2 separate regions of the Homo sapiens genome follow, and region 2 is linked to region 1. The links come from fine-mapping of genetic effects on gene expression. A gene starts in region 1. The other region holds a variant in brackets. All regions are shown on one strand. Distances are between the middles of the regions. Region 1 holds the start of PIANP (PILR alpha associated neural protein). Region 2 overlaps ANO2 (anoctamin 2).

The links. PIP is the estimated chance that this variant, and not a neighbour inherited with it, causes the effect.
Region 2: its variant is fine-mapped to the expression of PIANP in ovary (GTEx, PIP above 0.99).

Annotation. Positions count from the first base shown.
Region 1 is chr12:6,696,377-6,704,705 of GRCh38, reverse strand. It overlaps PIANP (PILR alpha associated neural protein), which reads left to right and starts at 3,891. Exons shown (of 5, transcript NM_001244014.2): 1 at 3,891-4,092; 2 at 6,602-6,661; 3 at 6,914-7,419; 4 at 8,182-8,263. The coding sequence starts at 6,645. RefSeq lists enhancers at 4,610-5,111, 7,815-7,924.
Region 2 is chr12:5,791,991-5,800,319 of GRCh38, reverse strand. ANO2 (anoctamin 2) reads left to right here. Exons shown (of 25, transcript NM_001364791.2): 10 at 749-813. Among named protein-coding and RNA genes, the nearest start is that of ANO2, 150 kb to the left of the region's middle. The variant C/T (reference allele first, on the strand shown) is at 3,613.

The DNA.
Region 1 (8,329 bases):
AACCCCGTCTCTGAAAATAAATAAATTAATTAAAAATGAGCCCAGAGATAGTGATGAAGATACCAGCAGAGCCAGAAACAGGACAAGGATGTATAGAGACTGTATAGAGACTGTAGAGTGTGGGTAGGTCCTCAAATTCATCTGAAGTCACATTTATCACTGCACTGTCTCCCTACCAGACTGTAAGCTCCACCAAGACAGTGATGACTTCATTCTTGCTCTCCGCTGTATCCCCAGCCATGGCACGGTACCTGGCGTGTCACACCATTTAAATGACCATATTTGTATGACCAGCCTGGACAACGTGGCAAAATCTCATCTCTGCCAAAAAAAAAAAACAAAAACAAAAAACAAAAAAAAACAACCACCACCACAAATTAGCCTGGCATGGTGGCACACACATGTAGTCCCAGATACTTGGGGGCTGAGGTGGGAGGATTGCTTGAGCCAGGAGGTCAAGGCTGCAGTGAGCCATGATTGTGCCACTACACTCCAGCCTGGGCAACAGAGTGAGACCCTGTTTCAAAAAAAAAAAAAATGTGGAAAGAATGAATGAATCAAGAATAATAGAAATAATTAATGACCCAAGGTCCTCAGTGTCAAAGGCACTTACACTGAACATGAATATTCACTTGATAAACTTGGTCCATGCCAGTGACATGAGTTCACCTGGAGCATATCCTCAGGATGCTCTGGGGCTTAAGGGGCCCAGGAGGTGGCAGGAGTTGCGCACCTGACTCACATGGCCCCTTGGCCGGGTTCACATCCAGTGTGCCTTGTCTTTCCCCCACCACTGGGAGACACTAGGAGGACGGCTCACTCGCTGCTGTTCTGACCTCAAATGAAGGGCTGTCAGGGACACGCAAGCAAGAGGGCAGCTGCTGCAGATGCTCGTCAGAACAGCAGGCTTCCTTCCTTTCACGAGGCAGGAGCGCCAGGCTGACAACGGGTCACAATGCAGCAAATGAAGGAGGAGGATCTGAAGGGGTGTGGACATGAGCAAGGGCTCAACCTGAAGCATTTGGCGTAGGGCAGAGATCAGTAGGGGGCAGGCAGCTAGAGAGGAATGGCTGGAGGACAGCAGAGGAGAGAATTAAAAGAGTTCAGAGTGGGCAGGGGTCCCAGAAGAAGTTCATTAAGTGGTACATGTTGAGCATCTACTACATTCCAAGGCACTGCAGTAGGAGTAGGGATACACGGTAAACAAGACAAATAAGATCTTGGCTCTCTAATGTATAGGGGGGCAGGAGAGAGCAGACAGTAAATAGTAAACACATATATGATCATTTCAGAAAGTGATGAGTCGGGCCAGGCGTGGCGGCTCACGCCTGTAATCCCAGCACTTTGGGAGGCCGAGGTGGGAGGATCACCTGAGGTCAGGAGTTCGAGACCAGCCTGGCCAACATGGTGAAACCCCGTCTCCACTAAAATTACAAAAATTAGCCAGGCATGGTGGTGTGCACCTGTAATCCCAGCTATTTGGGAGGCTGAGGCAGGAGAATCGCTTGAACCCAGGAGGCAGAGGTTGCGGTGAGCCAAGATTGCACCATCGCACTCCAGCCTGGGCTGCGAGAGCAAAACTCCATCTCAATAAATAAATAAACAAATAGAAAGTGATGAGTTGGAAAGACAATGAAACATAATGAGGAAACAGAGTGGGGGCCACTTTAGATTTTGAGCAGGGATGAAGGAGCCAACCAGGTGAAGATGGGGAGAGGGGTGGCAAAACATTCCAGGAAGAGGGAATCAAAAGTGGAGGGGCCGGGCGCAGTGGCTCACGCCTGTAATCTCAGAACTTCGTGAGGCCAAGGCTGGTGGATCATTTGAGGTCAGGAGTTCAAGACTAGCCTGGCCAACATGGTGAAACCCTGTCTCTACAAAAAATACAAAAATTAGCAGGGCACTAGTGGGCACTGCCAGAGGGGTGGGAGGGCTGGGAAGGCTGGAAGGGCCCCCCTGCATGCACACGCTAGCTACTTGGGAAGCTGAGGCAGGAGAATTGCTTGACCCTGGGAGGCGGAGGTTGCAGTAAACTGAGATCGTGCCATTGCACTCCAGCCTGGGCAACAGAGAGACACACTGTCTCGAGAAAAAAAAAAAGTGCAGGGATGCTAAGAGAATGACTTCTGATGTTACAGAACAGCAAGTAGTCTGATCCAGCAGGAGCACTGTGTATGAGGTGGGTACAGGCTGGTGGGCTTCTCCTTACAAGGAGTTCAGATTTATTCCAAGTGTAATGAAAAACCACTCGAATATTTTAAGCAGAGAAGAGCATGACATGCTTTTGATTTTTAAAATATTATCAATATAGGAAAAACTAGTTTGTAAAGACAAGGGCAGAAGCAGGGACCAGTGAGGAAGCTATTATGATAATCTGGATGAGACATGATGGCTTAGACCAAGACTATAGCAATAAAGATAGAAGGAGATGAATTCGGGATATATTTTGGACGCAGAGCCCACAGGACTTGTTGGTGAATTAGATACAGGGAGAGAATCAGTGAAAAAAAGGGGAAGGGAGGGATGTTTCCTAGATTTTTAGCCTGAACAACTAGTAGTTGTGAAGCCTCAGGATGGGGATCACTGGGAGAAAAATGGATTGGGGGTGGGGGAATTCAAGACATCTATTTTAGTCAAGTTAGCTTTGCATGGCTATTAGACATCCAAGTGGAGATGTCAAGTAGGCTGTCGGATAAATGAGTCTGGCGCTCTGGATATAAATTTAGGACTCACTGACATTTACATAGTATTTAAGCCCTGGGACCGGATGAGATCACTGGACAGAGAATGTGGAAAGAGAGAATGGCCAAGGACTAAGCCCTAGGAGGCTCCAACATTTAGAGGTCACCCGAGGAAGACTAAGAACAGTCAGTGAGGTTGGAGGGAAATGAGGAGAGTGTGGTGTCCTGGAAGTGCCCTGAGGAAAAACAGCGTAGTGTGGTAGAGAGGGATGGGATCCAGGTGGTGGGAGAAGGGGCAGGAGAGGCTACTTTTGATAGAGACATTAGGGAAGGCCTCCCAGAAGGCGTTGGATCTAAGTGAGACTGGAATGAAAACAGTAAGTCATTGTGAAAAGCCAGGGAAATGTATTACTGAGGGAACAGCAAGTGCAAAGGCCCTGAGGCAGGTTAAACCTGTCTCCAACCAGGAAATCCACCAGGTCCCATGTGGCTGAAGCATAGAAATCTTTAGGAAAGGCAATCAGAGAGCCACCTAAGAGCCAGGTTATATAGGGTCTTGTAAGTCACAGCACGGAGTCTAGGTATTCCAGTGCTGGAAAAGCCCAGGAATTTCGACGTGATCCACTTAATGCATGGTAGCAGGGCCAGAGTGAAATAGGGGATCAAGCTGTGGGGATAATCCAAAGATGGTGCAAGGTCCTTCCTCCCCAGTCCTTTCCTCCACCCCTTGCCCCCAGCCTTGACCTCAGGCACTTTCTACAGCGGGCAAAACCAAGTTGGGGGACAGGCAGTGGTGACTCACGCCTGTAATCCCAGCACTCCGGGAAGCTGAGCGGGAAGGATCGCTTGAGCCCAGGCGTTCGAGACCGGGCTGGGCAACACAGCGAGACCTCATCTCTACAAAACACAATACAAAAGAACAAAGTTGGGAATGCAGAGCATTGAGTGACTCAGAATCTCAGAAACTGACTGAGGCGACCATGGGTGTCCCTGGAGTTGGGGTGAAGGAGGTGGGGAGACTGCCATCAGAACCCAGGGAAGCGGACGGTCGCTGGACCCTGCCAGCCTCTTCAGCCCTCCACCTGGGACATAGCCTGGCTTGACTCCTGCAGCGCGGCAGCAGGAGGGTTAAACCGTGCGTGGCCTCCGGCGCGGGGGGGAGGCGGAGACGGAGACGGAGCGGTCCCAGCCGCCGCGCCGAGCCCAGCCGAGCCGAGCCGAGCCGAGCCGAGGCGAGCATCTCCCACCGCCGCCGCCCCGCGCCCCAGGCGCCCGCCCCCCACCCGCTCCAGCGCCCTGCCGCGGGCCAAACCTCCCCACCATGCCCCGCACCCCGCCCGCTCCTGCGACCCCCCAGCCCCGCTCAGTCCCGAGCGCCCGCAGTCGTCGCGCCGCCGCGCCAAGCATGCAGGTGAGTGAGAGGGACCCCCACGCCCCCACCCGCGGGGAGCCCGGCCCTGCCCTTCCCGGCTCCGCGCCCTGCGCCTCCTGCCCCTCCCGACGCGGTCCCTCGCCCGGGACAAGGCCTCCAGCCTCCCAGCGCCCCTTCCCCGAAGGGCTCTCCATCCCTCCGCGGTCCTGGCTCGCTCCCGCCCTCCCTGGCGCAGCCGTCCCCGTCCCCGCGGCTGCCTCCATCCCGCCTCGGCTCGGCGGGCGGCTCCGCGCAGTCTCCTGCTTCGGGTCCCCAGTCCGCTCTCGGCACTCCCTGCCTCGGGGTCCCTTCGCCGACCTCCTTTTCCTCGTCTCCCCCCACTCTCGCCGCTCTCCAGCCCTGTGCGGGGAGTGCGGGCCTGCGGGATGGGTGGGATGGGGGCCACGCTGGGGCTGGGGCCCGGCTCCCGCACCCCGAGGCTCCTGCCCCACCCCCAGCTCGTCTCCTGCGCACAACAGGTCGGTGAGAAGCTGGGAGAGGGGTGGGGGTGGCGCGCCAGCCCGGGGACTGCGGGCTTCCTGGAGGGGGCGGCTGAAGCTGTGCGGGGCCCAGGGACTGGGTTGGCGCTGGCTGGGGGTGGGGATGCACAGGCGGAGGGGCGATAGTCCTAGAGTCAGCTGGCCACAGATGCGCCCTGGGAGCCCTTCTCCGCTTCACTGGTTCGCTCTACACGCCTCGCTCCCTCCCTCTAGCTTTCTTCCTTTCCCCTCTCTCTCCCTTCTTCCCACCATGCCCCCATCCCTATGTCTTTCGGTATCTCCACATCCCTTTACATTTGGGGGAGCAATTCCGAACTCCTCCATCTTTGCTGCTCCCGCCTCTGCTTCCCAGCCCGTTCCTCGTGTCATTTTTCCTTAAGCATTTATGTTCTCTCCTTCCCCACTTCCTTTCTCCCCATCCTGGGCTTTCCCCCCTTTTCTCCCATCCCCTTACTCTCCACTCCTCTGGCTGTCCTGCCTGGACCGCTCTCTCCTTCTCCTCCTGCCCCTTCTTCCCCTGCACCTGTGACCCCTTCATCCTCTCCGTTTCCCCTCCCTGACCTTTTCTCTCATCCTTTCCTCCCTTCGGCATCCTCCACAGTTCGAGTCTTCTGTACCCACTCTCCTCCTCTCTTCCCAGTTCTCTCTTTTTCAGGACTGCCTGCTCTCTCTCACCCTGCACTCCAGGCCAGCTTCCTCTTCACATTTCTCCTCTCTCACTCTTAACCAGCCTTCCATCTCCCAGCCCTTCACCCCTTCCCATCTCTCCCACTGCCTGCTTCCCCACGCCCTTCCCGTGACTTTCCCATCTTGTTCCCTTGTTGTTCTCTGGGAAGATTCAATGGGCAGATTTATTTATTTTATTTTTTGAGTCGGAGTCTCGCTCTTGTTGCCCAGACTGGAGTGCAATGGTGTGATCTCAGCTCACTGCAACCTCCGCCTCCCAGGTTCAAGGGATTCTTCTGCCTCAGCCCTCTGAATAGCTGGGATTGCAGGCGCCCACCACTACCCCCGGCTAATTTTTGTATTTTTAGTAGACACGGGGTTTCACTATGTTGGCCAAGCTAGTCTCGAACTCCTGATCTCAGGTGATCCACCCGCCTTGGCTTCCCAAAGTGCTAGGATTACAGGCGTGAGCCACTGCGTCTGGCCCATTGGGCAGATTTAGACCCAGAATCCACAGGAAACGGGTATCCTATCTTCACTCCCTCTGGGGAGCCTGCCCCTCCTGGATCCACCACCCTCAGCTCTGAGAACACACCCTTTCTCTTTCAAAACCAACCATCCCGATTTTCCCAGGATTCTTTACCCAGGAGAGCCACATTTGAGGGGGTGGTTTCTTCCTGACTCCACCTCCCTTCAGAGGGCACCTATGCACTTGGATGATTAAACATTAAGAGCAAAAATTATATTCTGTAGTTTTTCTCCCACTCACCTCTCTCTTTCTGTCTCTTTCCTTCCATCCCTCCAGCTCTTCATTCCTTTCTCCTGAAGATGCAGACTCCTGGGGCTAATCATAAGACAAATGCCTGGCACTGCCAGAGGGGTGGGAGGGCTGGGAGGGCTGGAAGGGCCCCCCTGCACGTACACACACTCACTGGCTTGCTCAGATTGACTTCCCCATCCCTCCCCCTACCCTCAGACTCCCTCCCTAGCGGTAGGTGCTCAAGGAATCACAAGGTTCTTGGCTCTAAATTAAGATCCAAGAAAAGCCTGGAGCTGTGGGCAGAGGAAGTGAGAAGAAGGGAAATCAGAGAAGCCAGAGTAGACCCTGGGGTGGAGAGGTAACAGGGACCTGAGAAGTTGTAGATGGGGCTGGAGTCTGGTCAGGCAACCACGCTGGAGTTTTTCCCCCAAAAGGATGCTAACAACCAGTGAATCCTGGGTGCAGCCGCATAGCTGGCAGCTGGGTGGCCTGGGAGGGCAGATGCGGGTAGAATTGGTGGATGAATTAGCTGGGGAAGTACACAGGGCAGGGCTGGGGTGTGACGGCCCCCTTTTTCTCCCAGTAAAGGCTGAAAATCTGGGTCACAGCTGAGGAAGACCTCAGACATGGAGTCCAGGATGTGGTAAGTTTGGCCCAGCAGAGGGAGCCTGGAGACCACATTCCCTGGGGCCATGACTCCTTCCTTCCTAGACCCATCCAGAGCCTTCCCATCCTGAGGGCCATCCTCCTTTGGAAGATGGGAAATGAGGCGAGTCTTCCCAAGGCCCACCTGCTTTCACAGGGAAACCTGGAGGTTTCTGGTGTGAACCTGTCCCTCCCTCACATAGGCCCACAGTAGGCCTGTGTCTCAGCCACGCTCTCTCCCTTCTTGCAGGCCTGCGCTGCTGCTGTCCCACCTCCTCCCTCTCTGGCCACTGCTGTTGCTGCCCCTCCCACCGCCTGCTCAGGGCTCTTCATCCTCCCCTCGAACCCCACCAGCCCCAGCCCGCCCCCCGTGTGCCAGGGGAGGCCCCTCGGCCCCACGTCATGTGTGCGTGTGGGAGCGAGCACCTCCACCAAGCCGATCTCCTCGGGTCCCAAGATCACGTCGGCAAGTCCTGCCTGGCACTGCACCCCCAGCCACCCCATCAGGCTTTGAGGAGGGGCCGCCCTCATCCCAATACCCCTGGGCTATCGTGTGGGGTCCCACCGTGTCTCGAGAGGATGGAGGGGACCCCAACTCTGCCAATCCCGGATTTCTGGACTATGGTTTTGCAGCCCCTCATGGGCTCGCAACCCCACACCCCAACTCAGACTCCATGCGAGGTGATGGAGATGGGCTTATCCTTGGAGAGGCACCTGCCACCCTGCGGCCATTCCTGTTCGGGGGCCGTGGGGAAGGTGAGTGGGAAAGGCTGGGAGGGATATGACGGATGGGGAGGCTGGGTGAAGACACCAAGGGGCAGAAATAGAGGCCTTGTCTGTTAGCTCCTTCAACAAATGTGTCAGGCACTATACTGGCACAGGATGCAGAGATAAAGACACCCTCTCGGAGTTCAGGTCCACTGGAGCAGACAGACATGAAAGGACTTGGAGAGGAGTCATCGTAATAAATGCTTTAATAGAGGCATGTGCAGCATGATTTACAAAAAAAGAGAAGTGAGAGTCTCCTCCTGCTTGGGGATCAGGACACCTTCAGAGAACTGACATTTGAGCTGGCCCTTGAAAAGAGAGTGGGAGTATTCTGGGCAGAGAATGCCATGAATGAAGGGCACTACCCGGGAGATGTCTTGGCTCAGGGAGTGCTGATGGAGGAACAGGGCCTGTGGTTTGGGAGTTGGGCCATGGCAGAGACTAGGACATCTCCACCCCTTAGTTTCCAGGCATAGTGATAGGTTCTCGCTGATCATGGGGCCTCATCCTCATCACATATACACATAAGATTTGGTGAAATACATTTGGGAAAGTGGAGGAAAAGAGCTGAAAACTCAGGGGAATGCTGGTGATAATAAAGAGTGAGGCTCCAGAGGGGCAGACAGAGCCGGCAGTGTGGATCCACACAGCAATGCCACTCCAGCCGACAGAGCCCACAGCCCAGCCCCCAGCCCCTCTTGGCTCCTACCACCTCGGGGCTCCCTAAAACTTTCTTCCCACCCCAATCAGGTGTGGACCCCCAGCTCTATGTCACAATTACCATCTCCATCATCATTGTTCTCGTGGCCACTGGCATCATCTTCAAGTTCTGGTAAGCTGGGAGGAGGAAGGTGCTGGTGGATGGGGACGGAATGTTTGGCAGTCGAGGCTCTAACCA
Region 2 (8,329 bases), 900 kb after region 1:
AATCCCCAAGAGATCTGGCCATCCTGGTTCTTTCTGACTTTGTCTCCCACGTTCTCCCCGTGCTCACTCTGCCCCAGCCACACTGGTTCCCTGTTCTTCCTAGGATGTGCCATATGCACTTGCCTTGGGGCATTTGCACAAGAAGACTGTCCTGCCTGGGACACCCTCCCCCCTTCCTTTGTGTCTCAGCTCAATGTCACCTCCTCAGAGAGGCCTTCCCTGGCCATCCTGTCTACAACAGCACCCTACTCCTCTCCCTTCCTTCACATTCTACTCCCTGACCTTGATTAATTTTTCTTCATTAAGATTTCAAAATCTTATCTGTTTATATGTTTATGTTTATCTCTCCACACCAGGGTGTAAGCAGACTGTGGCTTACTGCTGTATCCAGTGTGGGGACAGTGCCTGGCACATAAGGAGATGTCAATAAATACTTGTTAAATGAGTGAATCATGAACATTAGGGCTCATTTTGCTGGACTAGGCAAGACGTGGGAATAAAGAAGACGGGGTTCTGCTAATCAGGTGCAGGACTGCCTCAGAGTGTGATAAAGTTCATCTCTGTTGTTTGAGGAAGGAGAAGCCAGTTTCCATAGCCTCCCGATTCTGAACATCTCCCCCTGGATGTCTCATGAGAATTTCTTAGAAGCTGGACTTTGGGGATAAAAATCTGACTTGTTAGGATGGACAAAATCAGGTGAAGTTTCCCATCTCTACCTCTAACCTGTTTCCTTATTTTCTTTGTTTAGCTGCTATATCAAGAATGGGCGCGCTATGGAGTGTTCTATAAGTTCCAACCTATTGACCTCATCAGGTAAGAGGTGGTAGGGAACTTTTGGAAGTATCCTGGAGATGCAAGTCCTGAAAGATGTATCATAAACCTTTTGACTCTGACAGTCCTTTGCTCAAGTGGAGGGATCTTCTTTTCTAGCTTCTATGATCCACTCCTCTGTGTCTCATGGGTGGGGAAGCAGCTGGGGACATGGGAGGGACATGGAGGCTGCGTGGGGCAAAAGATACTGTAGATTGATAGACCATGACCTGCACCTTGAGGTCTTCAACATTGGTCTCTTTCCCTGCCTGTTCTCTGGGAGGGGTGCATGGAGCTGTCTCATTTCTTTTCCTTAGTCTTGTCCTAGAGAAGAACCTGGATGAAGCTGATTGTTGGGTTATGCCCAAGTGCCAGTGTTGATCCAGGAAAGGGTGGATTTAGCAAATCACATGAGGAATATGCTGGTTGGCCTGACAGAATGTGGACTTTTTATGGCTTTTCCAAATTAGAAGGGAGGAGAGACTAGGCCCTGGGTTTCCTCCCTTCTGTGTTGTCACAGAATGATGTCCTGTTTTCTGGCACCTTGGACATTTCCCCAGCTTCTGTTGAACATTAGTGAAAAGTCCTTGGAAATAACTTACTGGAATGTCATAGGTCTGACTAGTTTAAAATGGCTTCAGGGCTCTAGAAACTCAATCTTCTGGCTGGAATGTTGGGCGGCAGCACTGTGTGACAGCACTGGGCTGAGAGTCTGGAGACGTGAGTTCTGGTCTGGGCCTGGCCACTAAGTGCTACCATTTCTTTGGGCAAGCCCCAATTCCTCTTTGATCTTCAGGGTCCTGGTTGTCCTAACTTGGGAGGCTGAGCTGAGGGATCTGTGAGTTCACATGGTAGAATGTGCTCATTTGGAAAAGATGGGCCGCTGGAGCCTGCAGGAGGAGGCTGCTCCATGGTGGACATGGTGGACTCACTGCCCTGAAGTCACCTAATGAGCTAATTCATCAGCCTGAGAATAGAGCGTGTTCCTGGCTGGTTGCCCTGGGCTGGGATTGTGAGAGGGGCAGCGGCCAGGAGAATCGAGTCTAGAGGGAGGAATTCCAGCTTCTGCTTGGAAAGAGAAAGCCGCGTGGAGGCCAGAGTTTGGGCAGCTCACCTCCTACACAGAGATGCAGCGGCCCTCCCAGCGGACAGAGCTTGGTTGGATGTCTCTTGGAAGCAGGTGTTTGTTCCAGCTGAGGACCGTGAACCAAGGTCTTGGGTGGGGGAGCAGGGACATGCGGGGCCTGTGACCAGGTGCCTTCACCCTGTCTCCCGTCCCCTGGCTGCCTTTCATGTGGCATGGGCCACCTAGACTGTTCTCTGGGCCACCCCAAGGCTGATCATTCCATTCTTGGTGGGCTTTGATCTTTCTCTCTGGATCTCAAGTGGCCACCCACTCTGTCGCCTGTTTTCTCCAACTACTCATTTGTTTTTGTTTTTTTTAAGTACGATTAAAAAATAAAAATTCTCCCTACCAGAGAGCCCTATCTTTTCCCGCAGAGACTTCAGGTGACTCGCTGCCAGCTAAGTGGCAAATGGCTCCAATATGCACTCGGTTTTGGCCACCAAAGCAGCCTCACCTGCAGGGGAAGTATTGCCTTTGGAGCGGAGCCCTGCTCTGGGGCCTGGCGGTTCCTGAGGATGGAGAGCTCAAATCTGTCTAGACAGGGCACGGTGTACTGGAGCAGGGCCGGAGGCTGTCTACAGCTCCTCACAGATCAGATGGCCTGGAACACTCCCACGGTCCCTGGGCAAAGCCAAGTCTTGGTCAGGAGGGAGAGGAGGAAGGAGCCTCAGGAGAATGGGACGCTGGGCAGCATGTGTGTGGGGAGCCAAGGCAGATGGTGATGGTGGTTGTCATCCCAGTGGCATAAGGAACTCTCTGACCTCAAGAAACTGCTGGAAAGAGAAGTGATGGAAGGGCTGGTGGTGGGGAGCACTAGGGTCAGAAGTGGGCGAGTACCTGGAGAACTTGTAGAGAGAAATGTGGGCTGGAGCATGCAGGGAGCAGCTACTTAGACTCAGTGAGCACACCAAACTCCTCATTTTACACTCTTTTACCAAATGGTCCCAACTTGCTTTCCCTGATTCTGTCCAAGTCCTCTCCTTCCTCTTCTTCATCATGACACAACCCGAGACCTCAGTAATCCCTGACTGGCGTCACTTTCACTTCCCACTCCCCAATCTAACTGTGAGTCTTGGGGATTCTTCTTCAGCACCATTTCTCTCTTTTGCCACTTCCTCTCCATCATTCCTCCCACCTCCTGTCGGGGCCCACCTGCCTGCAGAGTCCAGCCTGTGGTTCCCTTCCTGAGCCATCACAGGCCCCACACCATGACAGTTTTGCTCCATGACTACTTACTACCATGCATGGCACCCTCCGTGTGCCTCGCGGAGAAGTTGCCCTCATATGGTCTGTGCTGGAAGAGTGACGGAGCAGGGGAATCTGGCACAGGCGGAACGTGATAATTCATGCACAGGCCTGGCCAAGGTCTTTCCCACCCGTTTCTTTGGGTTTTCAGCTCCTCATTTTTAGCGCCAAGCTTCTGTTCCTCCTCTGGAGCCCTAGTGCTCCTCCTCTGTGCCAATTGTTTGGAAGATTCTAAAACCTCTGTGTGAGCCATTGAGAGCTCATGGGGCAGGAGACCTGTTTGTATGTGGAAGGCCCCGGAACTAGCTCTCCTTCCCCTTCCGCAGGCCTTCAGGCCTCATTTTGAGTCTTGGGGTTTGAGACACCGTTCCTGGATGTTGAAAGTCCACAGAGGGGAGGCAAGACACCCTTCCCTGCACCCCTGGCCCCTG[C/T]CTCCACCCGGCTGCAGTGTCGTTCGTGCCCAGCAGGCTGCACTGTGAGACTGCTGATGGCCTCCAGCCCCGCACGGCTCTCCTCCCGATCCTGCCTCTGCTCTGGAGACCTGGGGCCTGCAGGCCTGAGTGTGTGTGTGAGCCTGTATGAGAGTGTTTGTGTGTGTTAGTGTGTGTGAGTGTGAGAATGTGTTCGTGTGAGAGTGTGTCTCTGTGTGTTGTGAGTTTGTGTGTGTGTATGTGCAAGAGTGGGTGTGTGTGTGAGTGCATGTGTGTGAGTGTAAGAGTATGAGAGTGTGTGTGTGTGCCAGAGAATATGTGTGTTTGGGAGAGTGTATATGTGAGGGTGTGTGTGAGAGTGTGAGCGTGCATGAGTGTGTGAGTGTGAGCAGGGAGTGTATGTGTATGAGCGTGTGAATGAGTGTGTGTGCATGCGTGTGTCGGTGTGAGTGTATGTGTGTGAGTGGGTATGAGTGTGTTCATGTGTGTCAGTGTGAGAGTGTGAGTGTATGTGAGAGAGTGTGTGCATGAGTGTGTATGAATGAGCGATTGTGTGACTGTGTGTGTGTGAGTGTGTGTGTGAGAGCTCTCTGGAAAGTTCCCTAGAGAGGTATCCAGCAGGAACCTCGATGAGTGAGTGCACCCCAATCCAGAAGACCTCCTGGGCACTTCCAGCCAGCAGCACTTGTGCCTTGTCAGAAACATGGCTTGTGGCTGATAATATGAGGAATGACTCCTAAGCTAGAGTGAAATGACTCTTCTAGTCCTTTAGGGAGCTGGAAGAGGGTCCTCACAGCTGGAGAAGGACATTTCTGCCTGCACTTCTCTGGTTCAATGCTCTAAAACCCAGGAGGAAAACAGCCCTTATTTTCTGGGAAAACTTGGGGACTGGAGGCCTTTTCGATTTGTACAGGTCTGACCCAATACTAGTCAGGGCCGTAATCTGTCTTTTTACTAAAGTTAATATCTGCTCCCAGGCTGATTTTCTTAGCTTGGACGTTTTGATATGAATGAGACAAAACAATAGGTCTTAAGCATCTTCTGAGTTTGATTTCTCTTCTGACTATACTCTGCTGAAACTAATGTACAAAAAGTTTATTCTAAAGCAGCTGCCACTGCCTGCCTGTGACAGCATGGGAAAGAGAGGGTTCTAGAACTGTACTCAGCTCAGAGGGATTGCAGCCTGTTGACTTGTGGGAGTTCACCAAGGGGATAATGGATGGGGAGCTTCACTGTACCAAACCAGGCCTGCAGTCTGAAGAGGGGTAATGGTCCCTACTCACTCCCACCTGTTCCTGGGGTGCTCACTTCATGAGTGAGGCTTCCTGCACTTAAAGTCAGGCCCTGGGCATGAAGCCCACCCATGTGGAAGCTCTGGAGTTCTCTTAGAAATGTGCCAGCTTAGAGCCTTGAGATATGGAACAGCTTCCACGAGGATCTGAGAGTGATCTCTATGGGGTTACCATTTCAAGAGCCCTTGGGTGGCACTGTGCCCCAACGTTGCTACACATCTCTACCAGCCCTCTCTAGCCTGACATGCCACGAATGGGATCTCCCTCCTACTGCAAGGCACAGGTCACCGTCCTTGCCAGGGTTCCCCAGCACTGCCACCAGAGACTGTGTGGTTTGATCCATCCCTCCTTGTCTCTGGGCTCTGCTTCCACCCTCCTGAACTGTGAGCCATCTGAGCACCCCCGGAGGGAGACCGAGGAAGCCATGTTCTTAGGAGGCTTCTCAGCAGGCCAGGCTGGGGAAGGACTGGCCAGGCCACAGCTGGGTTAGAGGAGGAACTGGAGAGAGAAAAACGTTGATCAATCTGTGATTACTTATTTCCTTAGCCCTGCTGCTTTCTCCTTGATTTTTCTTTGGGATTGAGAAAGGCAATTCAGCTCGACACAATACACATTCACTGATGCTTACAGTGAGCAAGTCTCTTTGCTTGGCAGTATGGGGAGGCACAACAACGATGAAGGGAGAGCTTATGGCCTTTAAGATCTAGGAGTTATGTAGGGAGACAAATGTGTGCAAGACCGGATATAGCGAGGGCTCTCAGGACTATAATAATGTTCAAACCTATCAGTATGGGATCACATTTGAAGAGTAATTGCTGCTAGAGGAATAAGACAAGACTTCCTGGAAGAGGTGGCCCTTGAATCAGAAATGTTGCTTTCTGAAGGACGACTGAGGTGAAAGAGTGTGTCTTTGTAACCAGCCTGGACTGCCCTGTATAAGGATTTATAGTTTAGCCTGATACTAATGACTGAAAATCACATTGACTCAAAGCCAGATCTTTCCTCACTGTTGACTGGGAGTGGTGAGATCAAGAACTTGGCTTGCAGACCTTGTCTGTAAGGATTCCCTGCCAACCTGGCCCAAGTCCCTTGCTCTGCCCCACGAATTAGCAGGCAATCCAGGGTTGGAAGGAAATGAGGCTGGATGCATGAAGGGAAGCTAAGGAGAGATGACACGTGGGATCAGCACCATGGCATTTGCACGGGTCTTATCATTTGATGGTTGGGTTTAGCTGGAAAACATTTTGCAGCCTGGAAGGAAATAATACCTCATAGGCCTGAAGTCTATTCTTCCTTTACCTCTGAGGGTGTGAGAGAAGGGTAGACAGAGAAAAGCAGCAACAGCTGGTTGAGGTGAGGCAGAAACAAGGATGATTATGTTCCATGCCATTACATTCTGGTCCATTTTATAGATCAGGATATAAGTCATGCTGTTAATCCCATCATGCTGTGGAAAGGCTCTGCCCCAGTCTCCTTTCTCTCATTTCCTCCATGGAGTGCCACTCTCCTCCAGTTGTACCCTTTCGGAGGGAAGGCTGTTGGTCTTGTGGTTGACCAATGGAAACAGGAGTTGGAGTACAATGCTACCAGCTCCAGTTCAAAATGCTACCAGCTCCAGTTCAAGGTAGCAGCTAATGACTGTGTTGGTCTTCTGAGGGTGGCCTCCTAGCCTCACAACAGCCTTCCAGAGATGGTGGCTCCTGTTTTAAACTTTTCATCCTCCTTCCTGTCTTATCAGCCACATGGTATGGATGGTGGATCCCAAGGCACCAAGAGGCTCCACAAGTTCCCCATGGCCACCTGGAATTCCAGGGCAGAGCTGGGGAAGGAAGGAGCTGTCTGGCATCAGCTCATTGCCTCCTTGATCAGCTTATGTCATGCCCCAGGGAGGAAAAGCTGATATTAGTCTGAAAAATATGACAAGCTATATGTTTGTGCTGTCTTGGCCCTGTTGTACAATAAGCTTTCAATTATCCAGAACCTCTAGGAACAAACCATAGCCTCACAGAGGCAAATGAAGCTTAGAGGCCAGACAGTTGGATAGCTGTCCCTGGAAGGAAGGAATGAAGAATTTTTCTTGCGGCATATTCATCTAGCAAATGCCCAGCCTCTGCTTGATTTTTCTTGGAATAGGGAGCACCTTATCTCTGGGACAGTTTGTTTCTGTCTTGGGCATATCTAGCCCATAGGAAGTCATGAAACTAGAAGGAAAACTGCTGATTTCCCTTATTTTGGTCTTAGTTCTGCTTCCTGGAGCTGCACAGAACAAGTATACCCTGTTGTATAGGTCAACCCTTTAAATATTTGAAAACAACAATTGTGTCAACAACAGTGCTCATATACCTAAGCTTTCTTTCCCACACCCCAAATACTCCTAGGACTTTCTGCGTTTCCATATCAACGTGTGTTCCCCACACAGCCTTATCATCGTGATTGTCCTTCTTGGGACTCACTGGTGGGGTAACTTGGAAGAGGAGGAGCCTTACATACACCTCACTGAAGCAGTTAAGCCACCACATATTTTGCATTATCCAGACACTGGTCCTGGGGATACGGAGATGATGTAAGCATGACCCCACTCTCAAGGAGCTTGAGTTCAAAGTGGAATCTCCATGCTTGCAGATGACCACTGGGTTTTCTGGGAAATAAAGGGACAGGCTGATGGAGAAAATTTATAGAAAGTAGCTGTGAGGCTGTAGGAAAACAACATATGGAAAAGATCACGAGGGAAAATTGGCCTTCGACTAGCCATTTGTGATGGGCTCAGAGGTATCAGCTATGCATCAGGCAGAGATCTTTGGGGATGATTGTAACTCTTTCTAGAAACATCAGTGTGATGTGATGCAGCACCACAGACCCCTCGAATTCTCAGAATACATTTTAAAACCAAGCTAGGATTGCATCACTCAGTGATTTACTGAATCATGGTAAAACCTCACATGTGGCTGACTTAGGTCATCACACCTAAAGAAAACATAACCAGGCTGGAACTGTTTCACAGAAGGAAAAGTAATGTGATCAAGGATTTGGAGAGGCGTCTTTATAAAGTCGGACTTAAACAAGGAAGAGTTCCCTATTCTCAGAACAAAATGGAGAAGGAGTGAGGCTGACAGTCAAAAGATGGGTAATGTGCCTGTGTATGTGTTCATCAGACCCTGACGCACCTGCCCGGGGACATTCCTTTAGACCAGGAGCAGTGAGTTAAGAGTGAAAAGAACTCAGTTTTACCTCCAGATTTGTTTCCAGTTGATGTAATATTTGGGCAAGTCATTCTCTCTTGAGCCTCAGTTTTCTCAGCTATGAAATAGGGGTGATAGCACCTGTGCTACCTGCCCACAGTATTACTGGGAGGATTCAGATGAAGAGCTGTGCAAATACTGTGATGATGGCTGTAGGTCTAAATAAATACAAATAAATGTATTTAT